3 linked regions of the Homo sapiens genome follow. The protein of the gene in region 1 purifies or fractionates together with the protein of each later gene. This does not show direct contact. Each region holds a gene or a part of one and is shown in the gene's direction. Other genes may lie near its edges. The genes, in order: HAO2, PPM1A and UBAP2.

Region 1 (3,654 bases):
TAAAATGGGAATACAAGAAGACAAAATAAAGTGGGAATACAAGAAAACCATTAGATTACTTGAATCTTCCCTTTAATTTCTGGTGGCTTCAAGGCTGGTAGGGATCAAATTGAAAGAAAGTATATACAAATATATTGTGCTAAGTTCTTCACTTCCAAATTTAGGAAAAGCTTTGAACAAGGAAGGTATCCTTTTCTTTAATTATAAACCTTATATTAAACCTCTAACCAAAATAATAGACTACTAAGATTTACATATATTATATTAAAAATATATAATTGTATTTTTCAACCTACAAAATTATCTCGAGTTCAATATGGCAAGTCATTTATGAGAACCAACTATTGTGTTCTTTACCTGAAATTGAAAATGAGAATGTCTATCTTTAGAAGCTACCAGGACACATGAGTTCAGAACCATCTCTCATAATAACTTACTACCTGATTGTATTAGTCCATTTTCATAGTGCTATGAAGAAATACCTGAGACTGGGTAACTTATAAAGAAAAAAAGGTTTAATGGACTCCCAGTTCCACATAGCTGAAGGGGCCTCACAATTATGGCAGAAGGCAAAGGAGGAGCAAAGGCAAGTCTTACATGGTGGCAGGCAAGAGAGTGTGTGCAGGGGAACTGCCCTTTATAAGACCATCGGATCTCATGAGACTTTTTCACTATCATGAGAACAGCATGGTGAAACCCGCTCCCCCATGATTCAATTACCTCCCACCAGGACCCTCCTATGACATGTGGGGATTATGGGAGCTAAAATTCAAGATGAGGTTTGGTTGGGGACACAGCCAAACCATATCACTCCACTCCTGGCCCCTCACAAATCTCATGTCCTCACATTTCAAAACCAATCATGCCTTCCCAACAGTTCCTCAAAGTCATAACTAATTTCAGCATTAACTCAAAAATTCACAGTCCAAAGTCTCATCTGAGACAAGGCAAGTCCCTTCTACCTATGAGCCTGTAAAATCAAAAGCAAGTTAGTTACTTCCTAGATACAATGGGGATACAGGCATTGGGTAAATACCGCCATTCCAAATGGGAGAAATTAGACAAATCAAAGGTGCTACGGCCCCATGCAAGTCTAAAATCCAGCAGAGCAGTCAAATCTTAAAGCTCCAAAATGATCTTTTTGACTCCATATCTCACATCCAGGTCACACTGATGCAAGAGGTGGGTTCCCATGGTCTTGGGCAGCTCTGCCTCTGTGGCTTTTCAGGGTACAGCCTCTCTTCTGGCTGCTTCCACAGGCTAATGTTGAGTGTCTGTGGCTTTTCCACGTGCACAGTGCAAGCTGTCAGTGGATCTACCATTCTGGAGTCTGGAGGATGATGGCCCTCTTCTCACAGCTCCACTAGGCAGTGCCCCAGTGGGGACTCTGTGTGAAGGCTCCAACCCTACATTTTCCTGCTGCACTGTCCTAGCAGAGGTTCTCCATTAGGGCTCTGCCCCTTTAAGCAGATTTCTGCCTGGACATCCAAGTGTTTCTATACATCCTCTGAAATCTAGGCAGAACTTCCCAAATCTCAGTTCTTATCTTCTGCACATCCACATGCCCAACACCATGTGGAAGCTGCCAAGCTTTGAGGCTTGCACCCTCTGAAGCTACAATCTGAGCTGTACTTTGGCCCCTTTTAGCCATGGCTGGAACACAGGGCAACCAGTCCTGAGACTGCACAAAGCAGCAAGGCCCTGGTGCCCTGCATCTTAGGCCTACAGTCCTATGATGGGAGGGTCTGCAGAGAAGATGTCTGATATGCCCTGGAATCATTTTCCCCATTGTCTTGGCAATTAACATTTGGCTCCTCGTTACATATGCAAATTTCTGCAGCCAGCTTGAATTTCTCCTCAGAAAATTGGTTTTTCTTTTCTATCATCACATCATCAGGCTGCAAATTTTCCAGACTTTTATTATGCTCTGCTCCCCTTTTAAAAATAAGTTTCAATTTTAAACCATATATTTTTGAATACATAAAACTGAATGCTGTTAACAGCCCCCAAGTCACCTCTTGAATGCTTTGCTGCTTAGAAATTTCTTCTGCCAGATACTCTAAATCATCTTTCTCAAGTTCAAAGTTCCACAGATCTCTAAGGGAGGGGCAAAATACTGCCAGTCTCCTTACTAAAACATAGCAAGAGTCACCTTCATTCTAGTTGCCAACAAGTTCCTCATCTCCATCTGAGACCACCTCAGCCTGGACTTCATTGTCCATATTACTATCAAAATTTTAGTCAAAGCCATTCAAGATGTCTCTAGGAAGTTCCAAACTTTCCCACATCTTCCTGTCTTCTTCTAAGCCCTCCAAACTGTTCCAACCTCTGCCTATTATTCAGTTCCAAAGTCACTTCCACATTTTCGGGTATCTTTATAGCAGCGTCCCACTACCAGGTACCAATTTACTGTATTAGTCCATTTTCATACTGTAAAAGAAATACTTCAGACTAGATAATTTATAAAGAAAAACAGGCTTAATGGACTTCCAGTTCCACATGGTTGGGGAGGCCTCACAATCATGGTGAAAGGTGAAGGAGGAGCAAAGGCATGTTTTAAATGGCAGCAGGTAAGAGAGCACATGCAGGGAACTGCCCTTTATAAAACCATCAGCTCGGCCAGGCATGGTGGCTCATGGCTGTAATCCCAGCACTTTGGGAGGCCAAGGTGGGTGGATCACCTGAGGTCAGGAGTTTGAGACCAGCCTGGCCAACATGGTGAAACCCCGTTTCTACTAAAAATACAAAAATGAGCTGGGTGTGGTGGCACATGCCTGTAATTCCAGCTACTCAGGAGGCTGAGGCAGAAGAATTGCTTGAACTGGGGAGACAGAAGTTACAGTGAGCTGAGATCATGCTAAGCTTTACATACATTATAAAAAGAAAAAAATGCATAATTGTATTTTTAAACCTAGAAAATTCTCTTAAATATAGCAAGCAATTTATGAGAACCAACTATTTTGTTCTTTACGTTAAATTGAAAATAGAGAATGTCTATCTTTAGAAGCTACCAGAACACATGAGTCCAGAACCAACTGCACTCCAGCCTGGGCGACAGAGTGAGACTCCATCTCAAAATAAATAAATAAATAAACCCATCAGATCTCATGAGACTCATTCACTCTCACAAGAACAGCACTGGAAAATCCAGCCCCATGATTCAATTACCTCCCACCAGGCCCCTCCCATGACATGTGGGGATTATAGGAGCTATAATTCAAGAAGATATTTGGGTGGGGAAACAGCCAAACCATATCACTGATCTTTCACAAGTTATTTTATTTCTGAGGCCTCAGTCTCTTTAAATGCAAAGTAGGAAGACTAATACCTTCTCTGTCTTCTTCACAGGGACACTGAGAAAAAGCTGTAGATAGAAAAGAGTCTAAGGAAAAATTAGAAGAGGTATCGAAATGAGATAAAATAGTGTTTGTTATATATAAGATGCTAGGGTTGATTCTTTATGTCCAAGCAGCTTTCAAATCACATAACTGACACTATTCTAGACACATGACTCTGAGTGAGCATGAGCCATTTCTTCTGGATTAGACATAATGTTTGTGGCATTTATATGCTAGAATTGTGTAGAACAGCCTTTCTATGAGTGTGTAATGTATAGGATATGTGTATTTATTGAGATATCAGGAGTTGAAACCT
Region 2 (3,654 bases), on another chromosome or scaffold:
GGCATGCGCCACCATGCCTGGCTAATTTTTGTATTTTTAGTAGAGACGGGGTTTCACCATATTGGCCAGGCTGGTCTAGAACTCCTGACCTCATGATCCACCCACCTCGGCCTCCTAAAGTGCTGGGATTACAGGCGTGAGCCACCACACCTGGCTGCCTTCTTATATGCTTATACAGGAACAGATGGAGAAAGAGATTCGGAAAGGTTCAGTAGTCACACTATTACTAAGTAGTAGAGCCAGAATTTAAACCCACATTGGTCTAATTTCATAACTTATTTTCTTTAGTACTTCATGCTATTGGTGAATTCGTAGAGGAAGGAAGTTTGTCATTACTATTCTTTTCTGTTGGTTTGTCTCTTAAATGTGTTTAATTTTTTGAGTTTCACTCACGTCTCTTTTTTTCTTTCCTTTTCTCAAGGTAGTGGAGTCTTTCCTCTGTAAAACTTCACCTTGTTGTTTCTAGTCTAGGATAGTGGTCTTGTAACCTAGGATAGTGGTCTTGGTTACTGCAATTTTGGTTGATTATTTCTTGTTGGCCCTTAATGTGCCCCCATCTTCTGCCTTAGGCATTCCATCTAATCTTTTCCAGCAGTTTGCAACCTTACTGTGCCTCAGAATCACATATGAAAATTTAAAAATCATAGATACCTAGGTTCCAACCCTACCCTGGAAATTCTGATTTGGAAATATTTATTTTTCAAAAAGTCCACAGATAATTCTGTTGCACAGCCATGGTAGAGACCCATTTTCTTAGGGGTTAATGATGCTTTAGAGTCACGCAGACTTGAATCAGAGCCCTGATTCCTTTAAACTTATTAGTTGAGTGATCTTGGCCAAGTTCTTTAATCTTGGCTAAGGTTCTTCATCTATAAATTGGAGATAATATTATTATCTACCTTAGAGAGTTGTTGAAGAGATTAAATGAAGTAATGCTTGTAAAACACTTACCAGAGGGACTTAGAATACTTCTTAAACATTGCCTGCTAATAAGGTGTCATTATTACGTTATCCTTTATCCAATCAAAATACTCACCTTTGCAGTGTGTATCAACTTGATGTCAGAAAAATAATCTGATAAATATCACCATAAGGGATGGATGATAGCTAGTTTTCATTACTTACCTTTCGTTAGTTGAACTGTACTAGGAGGCAGAGGAGTAGGCAGATGGTTTTATCACGCCAATCAGCCAGTCTTTTCTGCCTATGTATCAGTTTGGACCTATAAGGAAAATGAAGGGGAAAACAAATGTTTTTCTTTCCTTCCTAGGAGGATTTTCTTCTTGCCCTTTTTCTCCCAGTTTCCTCTCTGAGCTGAGTATCATTAGCATCATCAATACCCTAGTTTCAGAGCTGCGTAGTGATTTACCTAGATACTTTTCTCCACCATTATTCCCTACTACCTAACTCCTCTTCACCTCCATTAAATCTCTGTTCATCATGCTATCCTTCTTTTGGATTGCCTTTAGTTCAGTTGTGACTTACTTGATTACTTGAACCCAGGTGTCTACATTTCTAAGCTATTGTTCAAGTAAGGGCCAAGGTAAATTCTAACCAGCTGTCTCTTTGCCTTGTGTGGGCCCATTCTAGACCAGCGGGTGTTAACTTTTGAGTATTGGAAAAGGATTAGATTAGCTGAGCCTTCAGGCTTGTCAGCAGGGCTGTCACTAGACCCTTTGATCTTCTTTATATACCTAATGGTCATAGAGTATAATAATAATGGTACATGTTATTACTATATGATTAATAGATTACTAGTAGTAATTTTGTTATATATGTATACAGTACACTTCGTTATGTATATATATAATTGCTTGCAACTTGAAATTTGAGGCTACAACATTTACAGTAATTTAATAACTTAACTGACTTTATCAAAAACTGAAAAACCTCATGGAAAAGGTAGAATGTAAGGTAGACTTAAAAGGATAGGTATACTTTTTTCTATAAATAGGATGAGGCAAGAGTTTCCAGTTAAGGAAACTGACATGAGCAAAGGCTTGAAGGAGCATGCAAATTTGGAGCATTGTGAGTAGATTATTTTTTAGTTTTTCAGAGTTCATGCAGTGGGAATAAAACTAGGGAGTTTGGAATCAAGCTTGAAAATTCCTGAATGTTCAACCAAGATATATTTGAGTTAGTAGATTTTTTGGGTATGTCATGAATTCGTTTGGCTTTTCTTAATTGATATACATACAACTTAGTCCTGAGCTTACACATGTTCATTGTATCATTAAACATTTAGCCTGGTTGGTTTAAGTTGATGGCCACTGCCAGGTCTCCTTTCTGCCTTCTCCCCTTTATCCCAATGCTTTAGTTTTTTTCTGCCTTTTTGTCTGTTGTGATCTGTGCTTCATCAGGCTTTCCCCCAGTTCCTCCTTGTTAATCTCCAGATTCCAAGTCAGCAACACAATGAATGTCTGCTTATCGCGAGTTGTGAATTCCCGCATATCTCTTTCACTTATTAAAAAGATTGTTTGGTACATATTTTGTTTATAAGACAGTTATTGACTTTCCTGTTTCTCTTCCTTTGCAGACCTAGAGGATCAAGACATAATGGGAGCATTTTTAGACAAGCCAAAGATGGAAAAGCATAATGCCCAGGGGCAGGGTAATGGGTTGCGATATGGGCTAAGCAGCATGCAAGGCTGGCGTGTTGAAATGGAGGATGCACATACGGCTGTGATCGGTTTGCCAAGTGGACTTGAATCGTGGTCATTCTTTGCTGTGTATGATGGGCATGCTGGTTCTCAGGTTGCCAAATACTGCTGTGAGCATTTGTTAGATCACATCACCAATAACCAGGATTTTAAAGGGTCTGCAGGAGCACCTTCTGTGGAAAATGTAAAGAATGGAATCAGAACAGGTTTTCTGGAGATTGATGAACACATGAGAGTTATGTCAGAGAAGAAACATGGTGCAGATAGAAGTGGGTCAACAGCTGTAGGTGTCTTAATTTCTCCCCAACATACTTATTTCATTAACTGTGGAGACTCAAGAGGTTTACTTTGTAGGAACAGGAAAGTTCATTTCTTCACACAAGATCACAAACCAAGTAATCCGCTGGAGAAAGAACGAATTCAGAATGCAGGTGGCTCTGTAATGATTCAGCGTGTGAATGGCTCTCTGGCTGTATCGAGGGCCCTTGGGGATTTTGATTACAAATGTGTCCATGGAAAAGGTCCTACTGAGCAGCTTGTCTCACCAGAGCCTGAAGTCCATGATATTGAAAGATCTGAAGAAGATGATCAGTTCATTATCCTTGCATGTGATGGTATCTGGGATGTTATGGGAAATGAAGAGCTCTGTGATTTTGTAAGATCCAGACTTGAAGTCACTGATGACCTTGAGAAAGTTTGCAATGAAGTAGTCGACACCTGTTTGTATAAGGTAGCTAGACTTTTTTTAAAAACATAAAATGATTTTATGCCATATTAATCACTACTCTAGTATTTAATCATCTTAGAATCTGTAATTCTGAAACCAGTTTTTGGCACAACTGTAGGATACTGTTCACCAATTATGAAAATATATCATAGGACCACTATGTAGAAATAAATTACCCAATTACCATCTCTGCAAGAGTTATAAGCTGAATGTTTAGTCTTACTACTTGAGCTTTGTAATAATGTGGAAGATTATCAAAGGTAAAAA
Region 3 (3,654 bases), on another chromosome or scaffold:
GGCAAAGAGAGGGAGGACATGTAGGGAATATCACCATGTAATCTTTGTGGTAGATTTTGAAGTAATTTTGCCCCAACTATCAAGTATTTAGGAATAGGATCCTTTTTTTACTAACTCAAAGAATCAAATTTATCAGATTAGTTTTTACAATTTTAATGTAAACCACTTATGCTGATATTTCCTGCTGAGTTTACTTGACATTTTTTAAGTTTCTCAAAGATGCTCCTTAAAAATTTTCTTTTGTGACTGGGCACTGTGGCTCATGTCTGTAATCCCAGCACTTTGGGAGGCGGAGGCGGGCGGGTCACGAGGTCGGGAGTTCGAGACTAACCTAACCAACATGGTGAAACCCCGTCTCTACTAAAAATACAAAAATGAGCCTGGTGTGGTGGCGCGTGCCTGTAGTCCCAGCTGCTCCAGAGGCTGAGGCGGTAGAATTGCTTGAACCTGGGAGGTGGAGGTTGCTGTGAGCCATGTGCCATTGGACTTCATCCAGCCTGGATGGAGCAAGACTCCGTCTCAAAAAAAAATTTTTTTTTTAATTTTTATTTTTTTCTACCCTTTTTTTTTTTTGAAGACAGTCTCACTGTTGCCCAAATTGGAGTGCAGTGGTGCAATCTCGGCTCACTTCAAGCTCCGCCTTCTGGGTTCATGCCATTTTCCTGCCTCAGCCTCCCGAGTACCTGGGACTACTGGCGCCTGCCGCCACGCCCGGCTAATTTTTTGTATTTTTATTAGAGACGGGGTTTCACAGTGTTAGCCAGATGGTCTTGATCTCCTAACCTCGTGATCCGCCCGCCTCGGCCTCCCAAAGTGCTGGGATTACAGGGGTGAGCCACGGCGCCCAGCCTTTTTTTACCCGTTTGTAAACAATGTTTGATAAGTTTCCATTTTTTGATAACTAATTTTCATGCTGGACATAGCATAATTGAATTGGAATCCAGTTAACTATTTGGATTTGAAGTATGAAATAGGGCTCACATTAAGGAGTAGAGTAGGTGTTTTATTTAAGACTAGGTAATACTCTTCATTTATTTATTTATTTATTTACAGATGGAGTCTCGCTCTGTCACCCAGGTTGGAGTGCAGTGGTACGATCTTCGCCCACTGCAACCTCTGCCCACCGGGTTCAAGTGATGCTCCTGCCTCAGCCTCCTGAGTAGCTGGGGTTACAGGCGCCTGCCAACACACTTGGCTAATTTTTGTAATTTTAGTAGAGATGGGATTTCACCATGTTGGCCATATTGGTCTTGGAACTCCTGACCTCAGGTGATCCACCTGCCTTGGCCTCCCAAAGTGCTGGGATTACTTGCGTGAGCCACCACACCTGGCTTCTTCTTTTATTTTTATTTTCTTGAGACAGTCTTTCTCTGTCGCCCAGGCTGGAGTGCTGTGGTGCCTTGGCTCACTGTAACCTCTGCCTCCCTGGCTTAAGTGATTCTTGTGCCTCAACTTCCCAAGCAGCTGGGACTACAGGCATGCATCACCACGCCCAGCTAATTTTTTTTTTTTTTCGAGACAGAGTCTTGCTCTCTTGCCCAGGCTGGAGTGCAGTGGCGCTATCTCGGCTCACTGCAAACTCCGCCTCCCAGGTTCACGCCATTCTCCTGCCTCAGCCTCCCGAGTAGCTGGGACTACAGGCGTGTGCTGTCAAGCCTGGCTAATTTTTTGTATTTTTAGTAGAGACAAGGTTTCACCGTGTTAGCCAGGATGGTCTTGATCTCCTGACCTCGTGTGTGATCTGCCCGCCTCGGCCTCCCAAAGTGCTGGGATTACAGGCGTGAGTCACCGCGCCCGGCTAATTTTTTTTTTTTTTTTTTTTTTTGAGGTGGAGTTTCATTCTGTCACCCAGGCCAGAGTGCAGTGGTGTGATCTCTGTTCACTGCAATCTCCGCCTACTGGGTTCAAGCGATTAGCCTGCCACCGTGCTCTGATAATTTTCGTATTTTTTGTAGAGACAGGATTTTGTCATTTTGGCCATGCTGGTTTTGAACTCCTGACCTCAGGTGATCCACCTGCTTCGGCCTCCCAAAGTGCTGAGATTACAGTTGTGGACCACTGTGCCTGGCCTTTTTTTTCCCCCTGAAACATGGAGTATATGTTTAAAAAAAAAAAAAGTTGGAGCCTGGCTCCATGGCTCCTGCGTGTAATTCCAACGCTTTGGGAGGCTGAGGTGGAAGGATTTCTTGAGCAGGAGTTCGAGACCAGCGTGGGCAATATAGTGAGACCCTGTCTCTATAAAAAAAATGTAAAAATTAACTGGGCATGATTGCATGTACCCAGAGTCCCATCTACTTGTGAGGCTGAGGTGGGAGGATTGCTTGAGGCCACAGTGAGCTATGATTGTGCCATTGCACTCCAGCTTGGGTGACAGAGTGAGACCCTATCTCCATAAATAATAGGATCATACTTTGCATACTTGCTGATTTTTATTGAAAAATACAGCATAGTTTGGGTGTGGTGGCTCATGCCTGTAATCCCAGCACTTTGGGAGGCCGAGGCAGGTGAATCACTTGAGCCCAGGAGTTGGAGAGCAGCTTAGACAACGTGGCAAAACCCTGTCTTTACTAAAAATACAAAAATTAGCTGGGCATGGTGTGCTTGTAGTCCCAGCTACTCAGGAGGCTGAGGTTGGAGGATTGCTTAAGCCTGGGTGGTTGAGACTGCAGTGGGCTGTGATTGTGCCACTGCACTTCAGCCTGGGTGACAGACCCTGTCTCAGAAGAAAAACCCAAAAAACAGCATACATACCGTAGATGATATATGAGGCATAAAAACATGTAGAGTTGTCATTGTATAACGTAGAAGGTGGTTGGGGGTAAACACATATGTAGAGTTGTTTTTTTTGGAGACAGGGTCTTGCTTTGTCGCCCAGGATGGAGTGTCTTGGCATGATCATGGCTCACTGCAGCCTCTATCTCCCAGGATTAAGGCATCCTCCCACCTCAGCCTCCTGAGTAGCTTGGACCACAGGGATGCATCACCATGCTCAGCTAATTTTTCTTTTTGTAGAGAGGAGTCTTGCTATGTTGCCCAGGCTGGTCTCTTAGGCTAAAGTGATCCTCCTGCCTTGGCCTACTAAAGTGCTGAGATTACAGGTGTGAGCTTAATGCCTGGCCCCATATGTAAAATTAAAAAAAAAAAGTAAAATGAACAACCAAGAAATAGGACATTACTGCTACCTGGAAGTCTCCTGTGTATGCCAGCTCCCAAGGCATTTCTTTTCGCTTTCCTTGAGGTAACCATTACCCTACATTATAGGTTTACTATTCCTTTGTGTTGTTGTTTTAAAATAGAGACAAGGTCTAGCTATGTTGCCCAGGGTGGTCTTGAACTCCTGGACTCAAGTGATCCTCCTGCTTGGCCTCCCAGAGTCCTGGGATTATAGGTATGAGTCACTCTGCAGGTTCTACTGTTCCTTTTTTTTTTTTTTTTTTTGAGACGGAGTCTTGCACTATCGCCTGGGCTGAAGTGTAGTGGCCCGATCTCAGCTCACTGCAACCTCCACCTCCCAAGTTCAAGCGAATCTCCAGCCTCCATCTCCCGAGTAGCTCGGATTATAGGTGCCCGCCACCACGCCTGGCTAATTTTTTGTATTTTTGGTAGAGATGGGGTTTCACTGTGTTGGCCAGGCTGGTCTCAAACTCCTGACCT

What was found.
Region 2: the proteins of HAO2 (region 1) and PPM1A purify together in Homo sapiens (affinity purification with mass spectrometry; 2 studies listed by BioGRID and IntAct, with this or other methods). This does not show direct contact.
Region 3: the proteins of HAO2 (region 1) and UBAP2 purify together in Homo sapiens (affinity purification with mass spectrometry; 2 studies listed by BioGRID and IntAct, with this or other methods). This does not show direct contact.

What each region holds. Positions count from the first base shown.
Region 1 is NC_000001.11:119,375,168-119,378,821, forward strand, and holds part of HAO2 (2-Hydroxyacid oxidase 2), read left to right. Parts: intron 1-3,654. UniProt on the Homo sapiens protein: Oxidase that catalyzes the oxidation of medium and long chain hydroxyacids such as 2-hydroxyhexadecanoate and 2-hydroxyoctanoate, to the correspondong 2-oxoacids.
Region 2 is NC_000014.9:60,280,148-60,283,801, forward strand, and holds part of PPM1A (protein phosphatase 1A), read left to right. Parts: intron 1-2,536; coding exon of another isoform or gene 2,537-2,556; coding exon 2,557-3,390; intron 3,391-3,654. UniProt on the Homo sapiens protein: Enzyme with a broad specificity. Negatively regulates TGF-beta signaling through dephosphorylating SMAD2 and SMAD3, resulting in their dissociation from SMAD4, nuclear export of the SMADs and termination of the TGF-beta-mediated signaling.
Region 3 is NC_000009.12:34,042,262-34,045,915, reverse strand, and holds part of UBAP2 (ubiquitin-associated protein 2), read left to right. Parts: intron 1-3,654. UniProt on the Homo sapiens protein: Recruits the ubiquitination machinery to RNA polymerase II for polyubiquitination, removal and degradation, when the transcription-coupled nucleotide excision repair (TC-NER) machinery fails to resolve DNA damage. May promote the degradation of ANXA2.